Linked DNA regions of Homo sapiens. The protein of the gene in region 1 purifies or fractionates together with the protein of each later gene. This does not show direct contact. Each region holds a gene or a part of one and is shown on either strand. Other genes may lie near its edges.

Region 1 (7,112 bases):
AATTCTGACTTGCCATGAAAACCCTGTGAACAATTTTCCTTTTGATATATTGCTGGCTTAGATTGCAGGCCTTTCCATAATACATCTTTTGTGTATTCTATTAAGAGAGCTAATAAGTATAGTTGCTAAAATAATGCAAAACAATACATTGCAATTTAAGATACAAACAGAAGTCTATGTTCAGCGTTTCTGCTTTTTTAGCACTGAAAATTAATCTATAGTGATATAAAACAGTTCATGCTTACCTTAGTGAACATGTTACTAAATCTGACACATTTCTCTTAAACAGTACCAACAAAGCAGTGAGCAATGCATTTCAATATGACAGAATTTTTAATACAACTCTGTGTTCTATACAATGTTCTTTTTCACTGGATGAGATGCAGAGATGGGATCTCTCAACTTCAGAGTACTCATCAATGTAAATGTTTAGTGGTATCTACTAGCTTTTTTAAAGGACAAAAAAATCAACTAAGTTTGCTTTTCTACCTCAGACATGATAGACTGCCTTAAAAAATGGAAATAAAAGTGCTTACTTAGAAAGCCCACTGTCAGGCCATGAATTAATAAAACTTGATAATAAAGCGTACCAAAAACAAAATATTTGATGCCACAGAAAGAAACTGTTATGAGAAATGTTTTCATTTCTCAGTAGCACACCTAAAATAATCAAGTTCTTCCTAAGAGGAGGAAATGAATTAAACCAATTTTAAGGGCATGAACAGCCCTGTAAATTTAAAGGCAGAAGAAATTTTAAGATGCTAGTTGCTTTAACACTTCCTTATTCAACTCTTGTAACATGCTGTTCTGCACAGTATGACATACTACATATGGTAGTTATTCAAATTTGACTCTGGGAAAGGCTGAGAGTGATGTTTTTTAATCAAGCTGCATTTCAATTTTCATTAGAGGCATTAAGAACACAATTCTTAAGCTTCTACAAATCATATCTTTTACCTCAGAAAATCAAAGTCAACTTTACAAAGACATCCCTGGTAAGAATATAAATGATAGATCCTGCCACTATAACATTAATCAGTAATAATAACCTTTACAGAAAAAAAGTGTGTTCAAAACTATAGTTGGAATAAAAACAATTAAAGGAGAAGCTACATTTTATAATACTTCCAGTAGGCCAATAAGAAAGCACTCTTGCTGAATTCCTATGCGTCTGATTCTGCAGCATACACTCTATGGTCAAATTAAATACCCACCCTTCAAACACCCCAAAGTTCTCAACACTAGAAAAGTTTAGTTCCAATACTAACAATATTGTAATTTTACTCTTTGAAGGTTCCTAATATTATGTTATTCAAGAGAAATATTTATCACTAGAAGTTTAGATAATCTTACTTTGTATTTTCCAGGATTTTTCAAAGCACAGATCAGAGCTCCATGACCTCCCATGGAGTGGCCAAAAATAGACATCCTTTGGGGATCCACTGGAAAATTGGCATTTATGAGTTGGGGAAGCTAGAAAAAATTTAATAGTGTGACAAAAGATATCAAAGAAAATAAGTTCAGACATTTCAAAGTTACAGAAAATAATTACACAATCAATACTGCCAAATCATAGTCTTACAATGGTTTGAACTAGTAACAATGAAAACAAAACAAAACTAAATCCTCAGGCAGACCATGATTATTAATATATCCCTGGAAAATATATGGTACAGACTTCTTAGAAAACACTTTAGGAAGGTGATGCAGAAAGAACCTTTAAAATGCTTTTAAGTTTTGACCTAGTAATTTCACTTTTTGGAATATATTCTAAGGAAAAGTCCTTAGGGAGAAAACATTATGCACAAATATAATCAATGCAGTAATATTTATTAGGGTAAAAACATATACAAAACCATAAGTATTCTATAAGAGGAAAAAGTCAATTATGGCATATGACAGAATATTACACAATTATTAAAATCAGAATAACACTAGAAAATATTTTTATATGTAACTTAAAAAGAAGAAGAAAATAAAAAAGTTTAGAATTACGTGAAAACTAGTCATAGAAACAGTCTGGAACATACCAAAACATAAGTGTTTTGGGGGGGTAACAGAATTATGGGTAATTAAAAACTTACACTATTGTTTCTAAGTTTTTATGATATACATAGTAACAATGAAAATCATATAAAATTCAGAAAATGCATAAGCAGCATACAAATATTATTAATAGAGGTAATGCTTTACCACTTATGTTTTCTAACTAAGCCTTGGCTTATCACTATAAAATACATCCAAATGAACCAGCTGCCAGGCAAATTAAAGGTTTTTTTCATATACCATTTTCTTGGTTATTCTGGGTAGTATAAACAGGTCTCAATATAATGATTATATTCTTTAATTGTACTTAGTGTTAATTTAAATTGCAGTAAATAGAACTATAGTACTAGCAAACTTTGGAATTTTTACTAGTAACTTTTATACCCTAGTTTAAAATCCTCAGGATTGTAAGGACTTTGTGTTCAAAATCAAACTCTTGGCAGTCATCAATTAATAATTACAATACAAATTAAATTACCTCCTCTGTGACATAAGAGTACATTCTGTAGTTGGTTTTCCAAGGATCTTCAGTGGCATCAACATAAAATCCAGCACCAGTGCCAAAGTCCCAGCTCTCATCTTCACCTTTAATATTGCAGCCACCTATCAAGAAACAATCTTGTGGTTTCATCTGCTCTGTAGTAATGGCCCATGTTTAATAACACACTTTCAGATGAATCTGCAAGTCCATTTGCATGGGAACTGTTCACCAAATGTTGTGAGCTCTCTGCCTTTTGGAGCACATGATAGGATTATACTTCCTGCTCCTCTTGCCCTTGAATGGGGCCCTGCGACTCGTTCTGGCCAATGAGGTAAAAAATGACCTTCCAAGCTGGAGTATTCAGCTGCCAAGGTAAGATACACTAACTTTCTTTGTTGATGAAGTTTCTTATGTACTCTGAACATATGTTTCCTTACTCTGGTTTACCTGTCAAAAAGGACTTATATCCTCTTTTTATCTTTCAGAAATGTGTTGTGATCCCTTCCCTGATGACCCTCTCTCACTATCAGCACTTTTTAAATTCTCTTTACACAGGAGTGGGGAGGCAGATGCTTGTGCTCAACTTACTATCTTGAACTGAAAATGTTTTCTAATATGCTTTCCATCACATTTTTCCTATCTATCCAACCTCCACTGGAATTTTCTTATGTTTCTTTTTAACTTGTTACATTTTATTTTATATACTTGCATGTGGTTAAAAAGCCAACCATTGGGATTTTGAATAGAATTACAGTAACACGTAGAGTAATTTGGAGACATGACCTTGTCGTAAGATTCATTTTATCCATCTAGAAACACAGCATTTTCCCATTTATTAAAGTCTTCGTTTATGATAACAAAATTTTAGTTTCCCTTTTATATATCTATTTTCGTATTTTATATTTTTGATATTATTTTGAATTAAATCTGTTGTTATATTTCTAACCAGATATGCATTGTTTTTGTATAATATGGCCTGTGAAAGGAAATATACTACTTGCCAGGCCAGCCATATAACTTCCCTAGTTTTACTGCCATTTAAATTCCATTTCCTGAAACTTCTAGAGTCATAAAACAAGTTTTAACTGTCTGATGCATTGAGTCTCACGTAGTTGATATTTTCATTTCTCTAATGTAAATATTCAAATCATTTATATTAAAACTAATACTTGTTTAACTGTATGGTTGATGTTAACAGAGATGAAAAAAGATGTAATTATCATGCAACAAGACAGTATACCTCTGGAATAGAAAAATAATTTCCTATGCATTACACATTAGTATTTTGACAGTAGTGCCAACATGATATATGAATTGAGTTGCTCAATCTCTGCTTTGAAGTATCTTAATCTGTACAATGGGAATAGCAAAACTATCCTCTTTCATAAAGGCCATGTCATGAGTAAAATTCAATGAGGAAAATGTACAGCATGGTATTTTGGAGTCATGATGCCACTTGAAAGGTTAATAGAGATAACAGCAAAAATATAAAATGAATTGTATAATGTATATATCATACCACTTTATACCAGTCTTAAAGATTTAGATTTTTACAAAGGATATCTAGACCACAAACACTTACGAGGGCTGGTATCTGGAGCAATGACAACAAGACCATGTTCTGAAGCAGACTGATGATAACCAGATTTTGATATAAAATTTTGCTCTGTGCAAGTTAAACCTGAAGATAAAAAATATTGTTATTGGGCACACATGGACATGAAGATGTGCACCATTAATACTGGGGACTATTAGAGCAGGGGGAGACGGAGACGGACAAGGGCTGAAAAACTACCAGTTAGGTACTATGTTCACTACCCGGGTGATGGTATCTTTCATACCCCAAACCTCCATGTCACGCAATACGCTCATATAACAAACCTGCACGTGTACCCCTTTAATCTAAAATAAAAGTTGAAATTATTAAAAATAAATTATCTCATGCTATATTGTGAATGGTTTATAAGCTTTAAACTGTTTATAATACAGGAAAACAAGCTCATTTGGTATTATTATTTTTTTTGCTTTAGAAACAATTTTGAGTAAGACACTAAAATTCACTTTTTCACAAAATTTGTAATAGTATTAACCTAAGAACTGTGTTAGGTTAAGTGATCCCATAACTATCCTTTTAAAATCACTACTAAAGTTTCAATTACTAAAATCCTTTGGACCAGGAGTGTTTGGGAATTCAGAAATTTTCAAACTGTAGAGTGACAATATGGTGCATAAGCCCAATATTAAAACAACCCCAGTGAAGTGTTATCAAATATGCTAATTAAACATCGCACTATTTCTGCACCAAAACATATTCACAGTAAATAAGCAAATACTATGGTCTTCATAATACAAATACTTTTTTTTACATACAGATAGTTCTCAGCAACAAAATTTAGCTTAATCATCTTTGTATTCTTCACTGAACTAAAAAGAGAGTAATGGTGACCATATGCCATCCTTAAATTGAGTTTTAGCCTCAGTTTTTAGAAGTTTCTGTTATTTTTCCTAGCTCCATGCTTTTCAGTCATGATAGAGGAGATGACTTAATTCTTTTACTATAGGTATCTAATACTACAATGATGTGAGAATGGTGAGGAATGAACTAGCAATCGATTTTATTGATCATTTCACCAGTTGAGAGAGATTTGGTTTGTTTATACTTTTTGGCTATTATAATAGTGTGCCATGAACATTCATGTGCAAGTTTCTGTATGGACATGTTTTCAATTCTATTGGGTACACAGCTAATAAAGGGCTGTTTCAATGGTCACCTTCACTTGGGAAAGATACAAATCACTACACATGAACTATCTTTTAAGATTTCAGTTTGGCTGTTTTGATTTCAGCTAATTTCTCTATTTTAGCTATATAATAATTGTGTAATCTTTCTGTCATTGTTTTCCTTAGACTTGCTGGGAAGTAAACCTTCTGAAATTTTTTTGTCACCATTTCTCACGTGCACTGGTCAGGCAATCTTACCTTTACTCAGAAAATCAAGCCTTAATTTCCAAGGTCTATCTGTTCTTCAGCATCTCACTAAGGAAACTGTCCTGTCATTTGATGTAAACAAACAAAAATTCTGTATTTTATACTTGTAAAGCTCAGATATGTCTTGCTAGATTCAATTTTAGTTAAAACTTAGGGCCCTATTATTAGAGTACCTATGACACAATGCCTCAGGGCTTCTGGTTATTATTGTTTAGCCAAGAGATATGACTATAGTACCCCTCACCAGAAACAAAACGCAAAAACAACAGGAGAAAAAACTAAATACAGCTCTGGACTGTGAGTCAGAAAACTTGTTCAACTCCACATTAGCGTGTGACCCTGGACAATATTTAGCTTCACTGGGCCTCATTTTCTTTCTAGGGATTACATGATTTCTAAGATCATTTTTAGCTATACAATATTATATTTTCTAAGACAATTAAATAACTAATTTTGTTGCTCTTGCTTTTAGCAATACCTAATGCTCTTCTAGCAAAATCAGTGCTCTTCATTCAATCACAGAAATGTTTTCTTGAGTTAAAGTCAGATATGCACTTAATCTTTACCCTTTAAGATGAAATATTTATTCTCATTTTCAAAGACTGGTATTTGGGACTTGTCCTTGATGAAACACACATGAGGGAGGATTTGTTAAATCAAAGTTACAGGAACCAATTTGAAGGAAACAAAATTAAAATAGTACTCTGTGACACAATTTAGTTGCTAGGATTCTCTCCTTATGTTTGCTTCTGAAGATGAAGTACCAGCGTCTTGTGAAAGAAAAGTTAGCATAGAGGTTTCAAAACTGCAGGTGTCAAAATCTTACTCTTCACAATCTATTCTACAGTAGTTAATATGAAACACTGATTAAGAGAAGCCTTAGCGTTCTTTTGTGACTTTCCAGATTGTTGTCAGAGAAGCTCTATGGAGTCCAGTTAAAATATTTTAGAGAACACTGTAAGTTATTTGACTTTTTACAATAGCTGGTTTCTAATTAGAGTATCTTGGTGTCCTGATTTCACCTAATATTGTTCTAATGGACTAGTAAAGTCTCTATAAACTCCAGAAATGCTTGGGTAGGTCCAAATTAAGTAAATAAGTTTTCTAAGCCCTTGCTATTGAGTACAGAACTTTACATTCTCTGCTAAATTACTTGGTCTATTAGAAAAATATATGAAATAAATATAATTCAGTAGGTCTGAAATTATTCTGAGGATAAAAGTAACAGAGTAGACTATGACAGGTCCTTAAAGTCTTTCATAAATGGCTCAAAAAGCCTACCAAGTTAAAATAAAAGGGTAAGATAAGCCAGTTAAAAAGAAAATAGAAACGACTTTATAAAACTCAAATGCATAATACTTACCTGAGAGCCAATACAGTGCAGGGCACTTTCCTGTTTCTGCCTTTGGTGGTAAGTAGACAGCAAATTTCATTTTGCAGTTTAGTTCAACACTAGTTTTAACAAAAACAACAACAAAATATTAATGCCCCTCATTAATCAATACAGAAACAAAATAATTATGCACTATATAAAAAGTAAGATATATACTAAAGGTCCAAAATAAGTTATTTAATGTTCAAAATAAGTGGTTCCACT
Region 2 (6,979 bases), on another chromosome or scaffold:
CTGGCTCCACAACTCATTAACTGCATGCTCTAGGACAAGTTACTTAACCTTTCTGTATTATTTCCCCATAGTAAAATGGAGATAATAATAGCAATTACCTAACAAACAGAGTAGTTTTAAGGATTAAAAGAGTTAACACACAAAGCACTAAGAACAGTACGTAGTGAGTATTTATAAATATCATCACAGAATTTTCCTCTAAAGACTTTAATAGCCTGTGGTTTTCTATTTACATTTCTGTTGCTCTGTATTAGGCCATGAAGCGCTCTTGAGAACAGTCTGTCTTTGATATGGATTTGCATTTCCACAAAAAGTATTTGTTGAATGAAGGAAGGTTAGGGTATAAAGTATGAACAGATACTACTTCAATGAACAGCAAACTAGGATAAGAAAAGGGGGGCTGAAGAGAGTGAAGATCACTATCTATTAAGTTTAACTTCCCATAAGGTCACCTATATGGTTAGAATAATGCAGTCAATTTTAGTAGCTACTTAAAAACATGTTCACAGTATCACAGTCCTTAGTGAAGGGGTTGTGGCCACCTAATGAACAGTTAATTCCACCTCAGCAGTTTTCTTCTGTGTCTTTGGGGAAATTACTTTCCCAGGTAGGTAATTCCATCTTATTAATGGTAGTATGAGGCTTAGTGTTTGAATGTCTGAAGATGAAACAGAGAAAGAAAAGTCCATGTATGGTTCTTTCTGCTCTTCTGCAACATTGCAGTTGAAAAGCAGGAGGGTGGGAGAGTCCTGCTGACTTTCACAATGTTATAGTGTGAACATAGGTTACTATTCTTTGCTCAGATATCTGGGCAGTGTGCCAAGGTCCAAAAAAGGAACGTCTTTGCTCTTAGCAGGGCACCAATGACTTTCCTGCAGATGCAGGCTCTGTGCTAACTTCTCAGCTATAAAGATTGAATTTAAGTGTCTGTTATTCCACAGACAGAGCCACATATTTCTTTTTCACTTTCAAATTTATATATATTTCTAAATTACATGTATTTCTATAACACAAAAAACTAAGCAGTACCATTTAGATTCCTTCATACAGTTTATTTTGCTGTCACTCCCTACAGACAACAAGCAAAGAATCCTCCGCTTTGAATGAGCTTACAGAAGAAGGCTCTTTTCTAACTCTGTCCATTCACACACCCTCCTGAGGGGGCAGGGAAATTGAGTCATGTGTGAGTTTGCTGTCAGTTCCAGCAAACTGCCAGACAAATTCTTCCTCATGTTCTGTCTCTGTGTTATCTGGCACCCCAGTGACCTTCCAACGGTGGGGCCTTGCTAGGGAAACTAGCTAAGAATCTGGGGCCCAAAATCTCTGTGACCTTGGGAAAATTATCTGACCTCACCAGACTACATTATAAGAGTAGATAATATAATCTCCAAATTCCCTTTTAATTCTACAATTCCAGTATTTTGAATGGCAAGGAATAAAGCTATCAAGTAATCTACATGCTGATAACATATTTGAGTTTGTATATGCAGTATGAACTGGTAACTTCATCCGGAATCTCAGCTAGTAAAAATAAGTTTTCAGGGAGTTGAGTACACTGTCTCTCCCCCGCTGCGAGACCTCACTGCGGTGGTCCCTATAAAAATAAAAATTCAGAAAGACTTGGTAAGTGTAAGACACAATATAGAAAAATGGCAAGAGTGTGAGACTCTTGGAGCAAATCACATTCTCTTTGGGTCTCGATAAACTCCATTTTAAGATCTGAAGTGGGGAGATTCGTCAAGATGACCTTTAAAAGATCCCATTCAGTTCTAAAAGCAAAAAGTCCAAGGTTATCAGATAATAAGTACCTCTGCTTTCTAGCTAAGGTTATTAGGACAGAAACTACCGAAACCATAATTTAAATGACTAATTATGTGACAAAACATTTAGGAAACCTAGGTTTAACACCTACTGGAAATTAGTAGCTGTCTCCACTGGCCCCGTTAGACAGGCAGAGAGAGTAATGCCCTTGCCTTGAAAACGTGTCTTTTCAGGTTCTGGGAAATTTCCAATTCATTCAAACATTTCTCCACATTCTCCAGCCGTTTTAGTATTTTGCAGATAAAGTAGGAAAAACAGTCGCAACTATAAATACAAGCCATTGTATTGATAGTATGAAGCGATTTCTCTGAGTTTGATGACAAATGTCACCTTCAAGCAGTACGCAGATTATTCCTACGCCAGAGTTCCTTCACCAACTCTCCCCCTCCCCCTCTCTTTCAGCAGAGACAAGCGATGGAGATGCAGGTTACCCAGGTCTTCCATGACAAAATGGTTACTCTGTTACATTTAAGAGAGGTGCTTCTGGAATTCACAATATACAGTTCAATAAAGAATATTTGCAGTAGTTATTTAGTTAGTGATGCTGTCACTTCAATATATCCTGGCATTACAAAAAAGGTCAATGAACGGGTTCCAAATAACATTTTGAGAAATTAGATATGGCGGAAACACGTCTGCTGCAAACGCAGATCGTAATCTGGAGCACCTGGTAAATACTACCTTTCCAGCTTTTTGCTTTCAAGGTCCCTGTGACAAAAGCCGTTATAAACACTGTGGGCAAATGAGGAGAAAAAGGGGTTAGGACCCAACCTTTCCCTCCCATCGCAAACCTTATCGTCCTTATCAAACACCGTAACGTCCTTTGGAAAATAGCTGCAGCGTCGCATTTTGTCCTCCCGTCATGCAGCAGGATTAAGATCGCTCCTCTCCCAGGACAACTACTTCTCCAGAGTCCTCCTAAGAGCGCCCCATACCCCGCAAGGTGGAAATCAATCCCTTCCCATTACTGGGTCACTGCGGCAATCCCCAGAAGATGAGTCCGAGCTTGCCAAAGGGCGCGAAGGACAGTGCCTTGCACAGCTGCCTCCCAAAAGTCCCTAAAGTGCAAGAAACCCCACTCAAGGGCGCGAGGGCCAGAGGTGGGCAGGAACCCGGGGCCCACACTCACCATGATTGAAAACTGCGGGGACAATTTCAACAACTGCAAAATGAGCCTCAGAGAGTCAGGTCACCTCTACCGCGGAACTGACTCGGAGAGGGCGAGCGGTGTTAGCGAGAAAAGGCTCCGCTCCCGACGCGGCGCTCTCTGGGAACTGTAGTTTACGCTGCCCTGGTTGTGGCGCAATCTCCAAAGCATTTCCTTCAAGTGTTGAACTACACTTCCCGATACCAGAGGTTTTTTTCAAGCTCTTCTCACTGCGCTCTGCGCCGATTGCAAAGTAGTCCCTGAGGATGAGCCCCTGTGATTGGAGGACGACAACAAACGGATGGTTTGGGCTCAGGAGGAAAGGACCTGCCTGATGGAGCCCGGCAATTGGCGGGAGAGATAGCGTGTGTAACTCTAGGGAGGGGAGAATCACCCCTTAGCGACATCACCCCCACGCGCGTGACTGAGACTGCATCCTCCCATGAGGGTAAACGTGGGAGGTAAAGAGACCTTCCGCTGCGTAAAGCTGGATCGACCCGGAAACAAAATCTTTTAAAAAACGATTGACACTCTGGAGGGGCGGGGGAATTGATAAGTTGGGACGACCGGACAGCTTCTCAGGTTGCTAAGCGACGAGGCGGGAGCGCACGCACACCCTGGCTGCTTTGTAGCACCTGAGGAAACTGTGGCGGCGGCGGCGGCGTCCTGGAGACCCAAGAGACCAAGCGAGCGTGTCGCTCCCTCTCGGGTCCGAGGACCTAGCCTAGGAACCTTCTGCCCGGGGTAGTGTCTGGTGATGAGGCGAGAGTTTTGCTGGGACGCCTACTCCAAAGCGGCCGGGAGTCGCGCTTCTTCCCCACTCCCGAGACAGGTGAGCCCTGGCCCGAGGGCAAGGGGTTTTCTTTTAACCTTAGGATCCGGAATGCGGTTGGTGCGCCGTCCCGCTTTGCTTTTATCCGCTGTGCGGATGCCTGCAAGCTCGCCGGTCCCTTTTCTGAGCGGAGTATGAGGGCTGTGGGAATGCAGCTATTTTGGAGGGGGTGGTGCCCTGGAGTAGGTGCACCCCCGACCCCAAATGGAGCTCTTCCAGAGTTATATCAAAAATATTTATTGAGCATTTACTTTGTAGGAGGTGAGCCTCTCCCTTCCAGGAGGTCACAGTATACGGTTCTAATTTGCTCTAAGCCCTCCGTGAATGTTGAGTTTTGTCCATTCCCTTTTGGAAGAAACAGGATGCGCCTTAAACCATCTTGAGTCTTAAAGTTATGCCAAACAGGCATTTCTAAGGAAAGACTGGCGACTGAAGGGGAGACACTGGTTGTTTAGTCAGTCAGTCTCAGCTGGTAAAACAACTTAAGAGGTTCTCTTTAAAATTAATGCTGCCAAGAGAATTGCTGTGCTTTTTGAAAGCTTGTTTCTTGTGGATGTTAAAAGGAAGATATGATGCTCGGGAGTAGCATACACAGCATATACGTAATGAAAATGAATAAAACATCTCTATTAGATAACATTGTTAGAACTTCCGTTTTTTCTCTGTCACTGATAAATGAATGCCAAGTAATATCTTTCAATTTTTCTCTATTTCAGTTTGGAGGATTTGCTATTTTTGGAAAGAAATGTAATGCTTTACTTTTAGCATTTATTAATATCATACCTGAATGACTCTCCTTGTATCTCTTTATTCATTTGGCTCTCAGACAACATACTTTCCTGGTTTTCCTCTTTTGTTACTGGTTCTCAGTTCTGCGGAGTTTCTAAATTTTTTTTAGTTGTGATCTCTTAACATTGGGGTGCCTGTATTCTCTGTCTATACTAAATCCCTCAGTGAGCTAATTCATAAGTTGCATCACTTCAAATGCTACTTTTAATGTCAAAAACTCTCAAATTTATGTGTCTAGTCCTGAATTAGTAGGTGTGCATTATTCTCAAACCTAGGTTCTCTGAGTTTTACTTTTTACTCTGAGCAGTTACGAAAAATTTCTTCCATTATCCTCCTAAATGAATTCTTCTACTAGCTGCTAACAGAAAGATTTTTCCATGTTGTTGTCCTTAAAAATATCATGATTTTACCTAATGTAAATGACGAGTTAATGGGTGCAGTACACCAACATGGCATGTATACGTACATATGTAACAAACTTGCACGTTGTGCACATGTACCCTAGAACTTAAAGTATAACAAAACAATCTCATGATTTTTGTCCTCGATTTACAGTGAATTTTACAAGGGAGACTTTTTATAACCAGAATTCTCACTGCAGTCCTATAGCAGGACAGGACATTCCCATACTCCAAGAAGGCCACAAACATGTAAGCCCCCGTATTCCCATCCAGTCCAGATATACAGAATTGAAGTCACCTGTGTGGTAGTTCACGGGCCTTGTTCTGTTTATTGCTAGTTGCCCTTGTAAATCAGGTTAAGGAGCATATTAGCACTGATTGTAAGTTACTTTTCTCAGGTAATATAATACACTGCAAGAGAAGATGTTTGGTAAGGTGGGTATATCAGCACATTTCCAATTATACTAATAAGATTGTCTGTGTTCTCTTCCTTTTGAACCGTCTTTGGTAATAGCTAATGTCAAGTAGCACAATATGTCATTGCACTTTCACTGTGAGTTTGAATCTCCAGGTGGTTTGTGAATGTGTTGCAGACATTCATTTTTTGTTAAGGCAACAAACAGAGCATTAAACTGTTATGCTATATTTGGAGTTATGCTTAACATTTTTTTTGCCCAGCCTCGCGTTATTTAGTAAGGTAATATTTAATTCAAATTGTAGAAAATGTTTGAAATACCATTCTAACAACATCCAGCAAAGATATTAAAGGATCATTAAGTTTCAAATCTCTGAAATAGAATGTTGGCTCTTGATACCCAAGGCACTTTGGAACTCACAAGATCTTATGCTTTTTTATAGTATACAATTATTTAACCACAGCTAGGCGTGGTGGCTCACACTTGTAATCTCAGCACTTTGAGAGGCTAAGGCCGGAGGACTGCTTGAGTCGAAGAGTTTGAGACCAGCCTGGGCAATATACTGAGACCTTGTCTCTACAAAAAATTTTTAAAAAATTAGCTGAGTGTGGTGTTGTGCACCTGTAGTCCCAGCTCCTCAAGAGGCTGAGGTGGGAGGGTTGCTTGAGCCCAGTAAGCAGAAGTTGCACTGGCATCACTGCACCCCAGCCTGGGCGACAAAGGGAGATCCTGTCTCAAAAAAAAAAAAAAAAAAAGAAAATTATTTAACCTCATATTAATTTTATCTCTAGCATATATAAAATTGTTATAGATCTAGTTAAAACTCATTCATCTTAATGTTTTCTTTAATGAAGTTCTATTACACTTTTAAGCTATTTTATAACAATTTTGTTATAATCTGGTTCCTTTTTGTTGAAAGTAACAATGTAATATTTAGAGAGTACTATAATGTAAAGATGCCTTTACATTGCTGTCTGTCTAAGTAGCTACATTTTTAGAAATATGTACTTTACCATAGGATCATGTATTTAGTAAACAGCCATGTTAGATAATGGAGTGTGATTGAAAATAGGATTATTTATAAAGCAAGGTTAAGACTTGTGAAATAAATCAGAGACCAAATTATTACAAATATTTTTTAAAGGAAAGATTGCAGAGCTAAATAGTTGACCTTAGCTGAAAAAAAAAACTTTGGCTTTTTACCCTTTTTAAAATTTAAGTGTAATGCTAGGTATCTTGGAAATTATTTGTTGGCTTAAGTGACATGCAGGACATTTTTGAAAGTATTCTCAAGTAATTTCTTAAAATGAATATGTAGTATTTTAAAAATAATTATTACATTCACTTTAGTGAATCTTAAACGTAGTAATTCCAAATTTAGTTATGGCAAAAATAAAAGTGCTTGTAATTTAATTTAAAACTGTAGTCTCAATGAGAACCACTTTATTACTATGTCTTACAATTTTATACATACACAATTTGTACACATTTTAAACTATAACATTTGACTGGAATTTTCAGGAATGGTGAAATACAGGATATTTTAATAGGATAAAAGTTTTAATCATGATCA
Region 3 (7,112 bases), on another chromosome or scaffold:
ACACAATACACAGAAACACAGCACACCTCTCCAAGAGCTCTAAGAGCTTGCTCCTGGCTGGGGGTTGAGATTAGGAGTTTTAAAAATTCTTCTTGATTGTGAATATTCTCTACAATAAACATATTTTTCTTTTCTGCCAAGAAAAAGTAATTTTTCTTTTCTTTCTTTTTTTTTTTTTTTTTTTTTTTTGGAGGCAGGCTCTGTTGCTTGAGTCTGCAGTTTTGAGTCTGCCTTTGTTGCCCAGGCTGGAATGCAGTGGTACCATCTCGGCTCACTGTAGCCTTGACCTCCAGGACTCAAGTGATCCTCCCACCTTAGCCTCCTGAGTAGCTAGGACTATAGGCATGCGCCTCCACACCTGGCCAATTTTTTTTTTTTTTTCTGAGACGGAGCCTCGCTCTGTCACCCAGGCTGGAGTGCAGTGACACAATCTCGGTTCATTGCAACCTCCGCCTCCTGGGTTCAAGCGATTCTCCTGCCTCAGCCTCCCAAGTAGCTGGGGCTACAGGTGCCTGCCACCACCCCTGGCTAATTTTTTGTATTTTTAGTAGAGATGGGGTTTCACCGTGTTAGCCAGGATGGTCTCGATCTCCTGACCTCATGATCCACCCATCTCGGCCTCCCAAAGTGCTGGGATTACAGGTGTGAGCCACTGCCCCTGGCCAATTTTTGCATTTTCTTTTAAGAGACGGGGTTTTTCCATGTTGCCCAGGCTGGTCTTGAACCCCTAGACTCAAGTAATCCACCTGCATTGGCCTCCTGAAATGCTGGGATTTCAAGCATGAGCCACCACTTCTGGCCGAAAAAGTAATTTTTCAATAATAAACCCATTTCAGAAACTGCCCACCTTAGAAAGTGCCACACAGTAGGCATAGGTGATTGTCTACAGCCCTGGGCAGAGCCACTGGCCCTGAGACCTGCTAAACAGATGGGGTGGAAGGTGCTCACCCACTCGGATGTCCAGAGGCCATCCTTCCTTCTCTGCCACCTTGCCCACTTCTGCCACAGGGTGAGCCAGGTCAGGGGTGAAGGGCCCATTGATGTGTGGCTTCAGCTGAAGAAACAAACATGCAAGGAGAAGAAAGAGAGGAGGGAAGAAACCTTGAAGCGGGGACAGCCTCTTTCACTGCCTCACCACGTCCCCACAGAGAGGCCAACGACTTTCTCTTGACTGAAACCTCATCACAGGGAAGAACTGAGCAGTTGGCTCTGCACACACCCGCTCCCGGGCTCCCTCCAGCCCTGCAAGGCTGGGCTCAGCTCTGCAGATGAAGGAACTGAAGCTCAGAAGTGACATGCTGTGCTTGAAGTCACATAGCTAGGAGACAGCAGAGGCATGGAATGGATCAAGGCTGTCAGCTTCCTAAGTTCATTATCTCCCATTCGATGTTGCTTTTGGAATCTTTTTTTTTTTTTTGAGATGGAGTCTCGCTCTGCTGCCCAGGCTGGAGTGCAGTGGCACGATCTTGGCTCACGGCAGCCTCCGCCTCTCGGGTTCACACCATTCTTCTGCCTCAGCCTCCCGAGTAGCTGGGACTACAGGCGCCCGCCACCACGTCTGGCTAATTTTTTTGTATTTTTTTAGTAGAGACGGGGTTTCATCACATTAGCCAGGATGGTCTCAATCTCCTGACCTCATGATCTGCCCGCCTCGGCCTCCCAAAGTGCTGGGATTACAGGTGTCAGCCACCATGCCCGGCCGCTTTTGGAATCATGACAAAAATGGACTTAAGGCCAGACGCTTTACATATCATAATCATCAGTAAATGCGAGGCACTCAGCTATGTGCGCAGCATGCAGTAAACCTCCGTCAGTGTTAGTTACATGAATTCATTCAATCCTCACGACTGCTGTAGGTTCCACACGTGATGGAGCAAGGGGCCTACAGAGGCTAAGTGCGTGACCAAGGCCACACAACTTAAGTGGCAGAGCCGAGGTGTGAACTCCTGCAGACGGGATCCTCTAGCCTGCCCTTCCTCTGGCTCTGCAAACACCTGCTCTGATCTGTGCGTCTCAGGGTGCCTAACCCTGCTGGGATTTGCCCTCTGAACTCAGATAACAAAAACCCTTCAGGGTGAAACCTTGGCTTCTCCTAAAGCTGAGCTGGTGGCAAACTGACATCCACTTCTGGTTCAGCAGCCAGAGCTACCTCTGCTCTCCCCGTGGCTGTGTCTCCCCCCTCCCCACCCACTGCTCCAGGCTGCTTCAGGAAGCAGTTTGCAGGAACACTGGGGACCCAGGGGCCCACGAGTCACCCTGAGGTTTTTCTTGTTTTGTTTTTGAGACAGTGTCGCTCTGTCGCCCAGGCTGGAGTGCAGTGGTGCGATCTCGGCTGACTGCAACCTCTGCGTCCCGGGTTCAAGCGATTATCTTGCCTCAGCCTCCTGAATAGCTGGGATTATAGGCACATGGCACTATGCCGAGCTAATTTTTGTATTTTTTTTTTTTTTTTTAGTAGAGACGGGGTTTCACTATGTTGGACAGGCTGGTCTTGAACTGCTGACCTCAACTGACCCACCTGCCTTGGCCTCCCAAAGTGCTGGGATTACAGCTGTGAGCCACCACCCGGCCCTCAGTGAGTATTTAGGCAGGACCCGCCCTGCTCCCCACTACTCTCAGAAACTTCTTGAACCCAGTTAATTGTCTCCTCACCTCACTGAGGTTAATTTCAATTAGTTGGTCATAATGGCAGCCAGGGTCAGGCACCAAGTGATCCTTGAATTCATCAGCTAGATTGGCAATGTCTGAAATCAACAAGGGACGGGGATGGAGCACGTGAAACATAAACTGTTCTTGAGAGTTCACTCACCACCCACCTGAGCACCTGCCAAACACCAGGCCCACCCTGGGCACTGACTAGGCCAATGAAGAAACCAAGGCTGCTGTCTCTGCCCTTACAGAGCTCACACCCTAGTGCAGGAGCTGTCAGGGACACGGAGACACAGAGGAGGAGCGCCAGCTAAGGTTCAGAGCCGGGGAGGGTGTCCTGGAAGTGAAGAGCTGGGTTTTGAAGAAGCAGTCACTCAATAAGGAAAGGGAGGAGCCTTCCAAGGATTCCACGTGCTTACGGCTCTCCCCATGGCCCCTGGTCTCTGGCTCCTCGTTCACTCCCACAACGCACCACCCTTCACAGGTGCCAATGCCCTCTGAGCTCCAAAGAAGCCAGGCTAGAGCCTCAGGGAAGTTGTCAGGGGAGGCTGGGAAAGTGGTTCTCCTTCCAAATGTTCCCCTGCTAGGTCAGGAATTATCAACAGAAGCGATCCATGTCATTTCCGGAGTTTCCTGTAGGGGGCAGCAGGGACCAGGCCGAGAAGGGCGGGCATTCAGCCACCTTCCAGGGAAAATGAAATGCCCATCCTGAGGTGGGGCTATCTTGAACTCAGATGCCAGGCCCTTTGAGAAGCTGGAGAGAGCTCCAGACAATCTACTCAGAAACATATTGCACCTCTTCAGGGCTTTCTCAGAGCCTCGGACGCCTGTCTGGAGACAATGGGTTAAGAACCCCTGCCCTACAGGGAAAGGCATAGCTCTGTCTTGGGGAGGAGCGGGCATGTGACTGTTCCACCCACACGGGCCTGCCCCTGCCAGCTCACCTTCCCGGCCGGTCTTGCTCAGGTACTTCTTCATCCTGTGGTTGTAAGGGAACACGGAAGTGGTGGCCCCAATTTCTGCACCCATGTTGCAGATTGTCGCCATGCCTGTGGAGCAACAGAGCCCCGGGCATTGGCTGGTGGCCGGGCCAGGGTCCCACACACCTGCTACGCGGCCACCTGCATCTTCACACCAGGGAGCTGCATTGCTTCTCCTCCCACTCAGAGAGATGTGGTGACAGCGGGCCGACTCATCCCTTGAGGCCCTGGGTAAAAACCTGGGCCGGTGAGGGGAGGCCATGGGGATCAGAGCTCAGGGCCCCAGCTCAGGGTGGCTGCTGGGTAGAATGAAGAGGACTCAGGTGAAGATTCAGCCCCCACACACTGAGCTGCGAGCTTGGGGCCTGACTGTCGCCCAAGAGATTGAACAGGCACCACGTACTGTAGGCTGACCTGACCAGACACTGCCCAGTTGCTATTCTTTTTGGCAGGGGAGGAACTGGCTCAGAGAGATTCAAGGTCATGCCATAAAGCACATAAAGGTAGATGCTGACATTCGGATCTTGGTCTGTCTGCCTGGTGGCCTGCCCTCCTTCAGCCATACCATGGTGGAGACACTTTTCTGTGTCTCAAGTTTTCCAGTGATGGAGGCCGAGGTGGGTGGATCACCTGAGGTCAGGAGTTTGAGACCAGCCTGGCCAACATGGTGAAAACCCATCTCTACTAAAAAAAAATACAAAAAAAATTAGCCAGGCATCATGGTGCACACCTGTAATCCCAGCTACTCAGGAGGCTGAGACCGGAGAATTGCTTGAACCCAGGAGGCGGAGGTTGTAGTGAGCCGAGATTGCACCACTGCATTCCAGCCTGGGCGACAGAGTTAGACTCTGTCTCAAAAAACAAGAACAAAAACAAAAACTGAAATGATACACACTGTCTGGACCACAAAGCGTCACAGAACTGGTGGGGCTCACAGGTACTGCAGCTGCTACCAGGCCACCTGCCTCAGGAGCCACTAGGACGGAGGTATGGGCCTGTTACCAACGTCCTGACTGAGCAGTCCCGTGGCAGGAGTGAGCCCCCATCACTGCAGGGGAACCAGAGTTCTGCAGGGCTGCCAGGGAGCCCAGGCAGGCACCTGGGAAGTCTAGACTGTTACAAATCTCCCTGGATTTCTGAGGACCAGGCATCCAGGCCAGGTCACCAGGAGTGACAGGCAGGGAGCAGCTGGCTCCTACCTGGTCTTGGAGGCGGACAGGCACCGATCTCTAATCCAAGGGAAGTGAGTGAGGCTCGAACTTCAGCGAAGGGAGGATGTGGGCCTGCAGCTGCTTCATGAATGAAGCCCTGGCTCTGCCCATTCCCACCACTGCCTCTGTCCTCTCTGGATTCGTCTAGATCACCCAAGGTGGCCTAGTGCTATGGCCTGGGCCCAGCAGCAGAAGCTGACTTGGCTCCTAACCGTGTGTGGCCACACAGTTAGGAAGTCACCGGCAGCCTCGACAGGTATCTCAATCTCTTCATCTGTTTAATGAGGATGTGGACTAGACAATCTCTAATGCTGTCTCCAATTTTCCTTCTACCTCTGTCTATCCCAAGTCCCCAAATGGAACAGACAGATTCTCAAGTGAAGGCCATTCACCGCTTCTACTCCCAACTGGAGACCCATCAGGCCCAGCACAGGGTAGGGGCCACGTCGCCTGGCCGCCTTCCTCACCAGTGCAGGAGATGGAGTCTACACCAGGCCCGTGGTATTCCACGATTGCACCTGTGCCACCTTTCACCGTGAGGATGCCTGCCACCTTCAGGATCACATCTTTGGGTGAGGACCAACCGGAGAGAGAGCCCGTCAGCTTCACGCCAATCACCTGGACAGGAGGGGGCGAGGCGGCTGTGAGAGGCCGTGTGTGCCTGTGCCAGCCACGAAGTCAGGATGGCCCTGCTGCCATTCACATTGCTGCTTATTGGTCTCTACCTCCCTCCCAGAAGATTCGAGTCTAACTTGTTCCCTTTTCCCTCCTGGGTCCCACCGTCTCCCGTTCATCCCCACCAACCACCACCCCACAGCCAGCCCAGAATGAGTCCCTCCCCACCCTCACCTTGGGGCACTTCAGCTCCCAGGGGATCCCAGCCATGACATCCACAGCATCGGCACCCCCAACTCCAATGCAGATGCCCCCAAGGCCGCCACCATTGGGGGTGTGGGAGTCAGTGCCAATCAGAAGAACACCAGGGTACGCATAGTTTTCCAGAATAATCTGAAAAATAATCCAAGATGTTATATTTAGAAGCCCTCAGCCGAGAATACCAAAAAATGGCCCCACTGACCCGGGGCCTCCCAACCACGTCCAGCCACTCTCCCAGGATGGAACTGGTAGGAGCAGCCCCATTTAATCCAGGCCGTCTCCAGGGTGGCCAAGAAGAGCCAGAGCCTTGGGAGACAGGTGGCCTGGGCTCTTGAATAGCTCTGATATTTCCTGCTATATGTCTTGGGCCTTTGAATGCTGCCCCATGCCTCAGTTTCCTCATTTGTAGCACAGTAACCAAACACCCATACCACCATGACCCCAGGATGTGACAAGAACCAGAGAAACTGTCCTGTGATGGGCCCAGGCCCGGCCTCATCCTGGGTGTGGAGCATCCCCACCTGGCTTCTCATCGGGGTTGGTGGTTCTTCCAGGAGCTGGCTCCAGCCCCACAAGGCCCCTGAGGAAGAAGTCCTGGGAGGCCCCAGTGGGTACACAAAGCTATGAACTTTTCCTCAACTGCAAAGAATAGGTGATGCCTCGTCCACTTCAGCATCTGGAGGTGGCTCTGAGAACCCATGTGACTTGCTCAAGGCGCGATGCCACCCTGCCTCATCACCTGTCCCATTTCACAGTACTCCCTTCACTGAGGCGCTCCTCCCAGCCGTGGGGAGCACTTCCCCCAAAACATTTGGTAAGAAAGGCAGCAACACCTCAACACCCAAGTGCTCAACACCTTGGGTGCTGTATAGGCTCAACACCCAAGTGTGGCCCAGGCACCAGGCACCTCTGAGGCACTGGCCCCCTGAAGCTGCAGGACACTGCTTGGCAAGCCCTGAGCCAGGCGTCCTGTATCGGGGGGTCTGAGGTCTGGCCCCACCATCTACTAGTTGTTGTGGGACCATGGACAAGTCACTTCTCTCGGAGCTCAGTTTCCCTATCAAGAAATAGCTAACAATCGTGCTCACATCATTGGTTCACTGATGACTGGATGAGATCCTGTCCATGAGGCACAGAATAGTGCCTGCGGGAAGCAACATTTTTATTTATTGTTTTGCAGCAAGAGCCTTCACCTGAGGTTCTGCCGCTCATCAGTCAGATGGAGTTAGTGCCCCACCCGGGGATGTGGGGAAGAACACATGAGAGGTGTGACAGGCTCTGTGAACTCTCAGGACCCACCAGTGCTCCCAGAAATCTTACAGAAACCCCAGGGCCTCTGCCTCAGGACAAGCATCTGCCTAGCAGACTCTAAGGTCCAAAGGTCTCATCTCTTGGG

The links.
Region 2: the proteins of ESD (region 1) and MDH1 fractionate together in Homo sapiens (co-fractionation; 2 studies listed by BioGRID). This does not show direct contact.
Region 3: the proteins of ESD (region 1) and ACO2 fractionate together in Homo sapiens (co-fractionation; 2 studies listed by BioGRID). This does not show direct contact.

The regions. Positions count from the first base shown.
Region 1 is NC_000013.11:46,780,143-46,787,254, forward strand, and holds part of ESD (S-formylglutathione hydrolase), read right to left. Parts: intron 6,968-7,112; coding exon 6,879-6,967; intron 4,209-6,878; coding exon 4,110-4,208; intron 2,650-4,109; coding exon 2,525-2,649; intron 1,474-2,524; coding exon 1,354-1,473; intron 1-1,353.
Region 2 is NC_000002.12:63,585,018-63,591,996, reverse strand, and holds the start of MDH1 (malate dehydrogenase, cytoplasmic), read right to left. Parts: upstream 3,035-6,979; 5' UTR 2,954-3,034; coding exon 2,951-2,953; intron 2,852-2,950; exon of another isoform or gene 2,670-2,851; coding exon of another isoform or gene 2,613-2,669; intron 1-2,612. Other genes in the region: WDPCP (WD repeat-containing and planar cell polarity effector protein fritz homolog), read left to right, coding at 3,726-3,800. UniProt on the Homo sapiens protein: Catalyzes the reduction of aromatic alpha-keto acids in the presence of NADH. Plays essential roles in the malate-aspartate shuttle and the tricarboxylic acid cycle, important in mitochondrial NADH supply for oxidative phosphorylation.
Region 3 is NC_000022.11:41,514,113-41,521,224, reverse strand, and holds part of ACO2 (aconitate hydratase, mitochondrial precursor), read right to left. Parts: intron 5,849-7,112; coding exon 5,690-5,848; intron 5,459-5,689; coding exon 5,308-5,458; intron 3,699-5,307; coding exon 3,594-3,698; intron 2,745-3,593; coding exon 2,653-2,744; intron 1,055-2,652; coding exon 949-1,054; intron 1-948. UniProt on the Homo sapiens protein: Catalyzes the isomerization of citrate to isocitrate via cis-aconitate.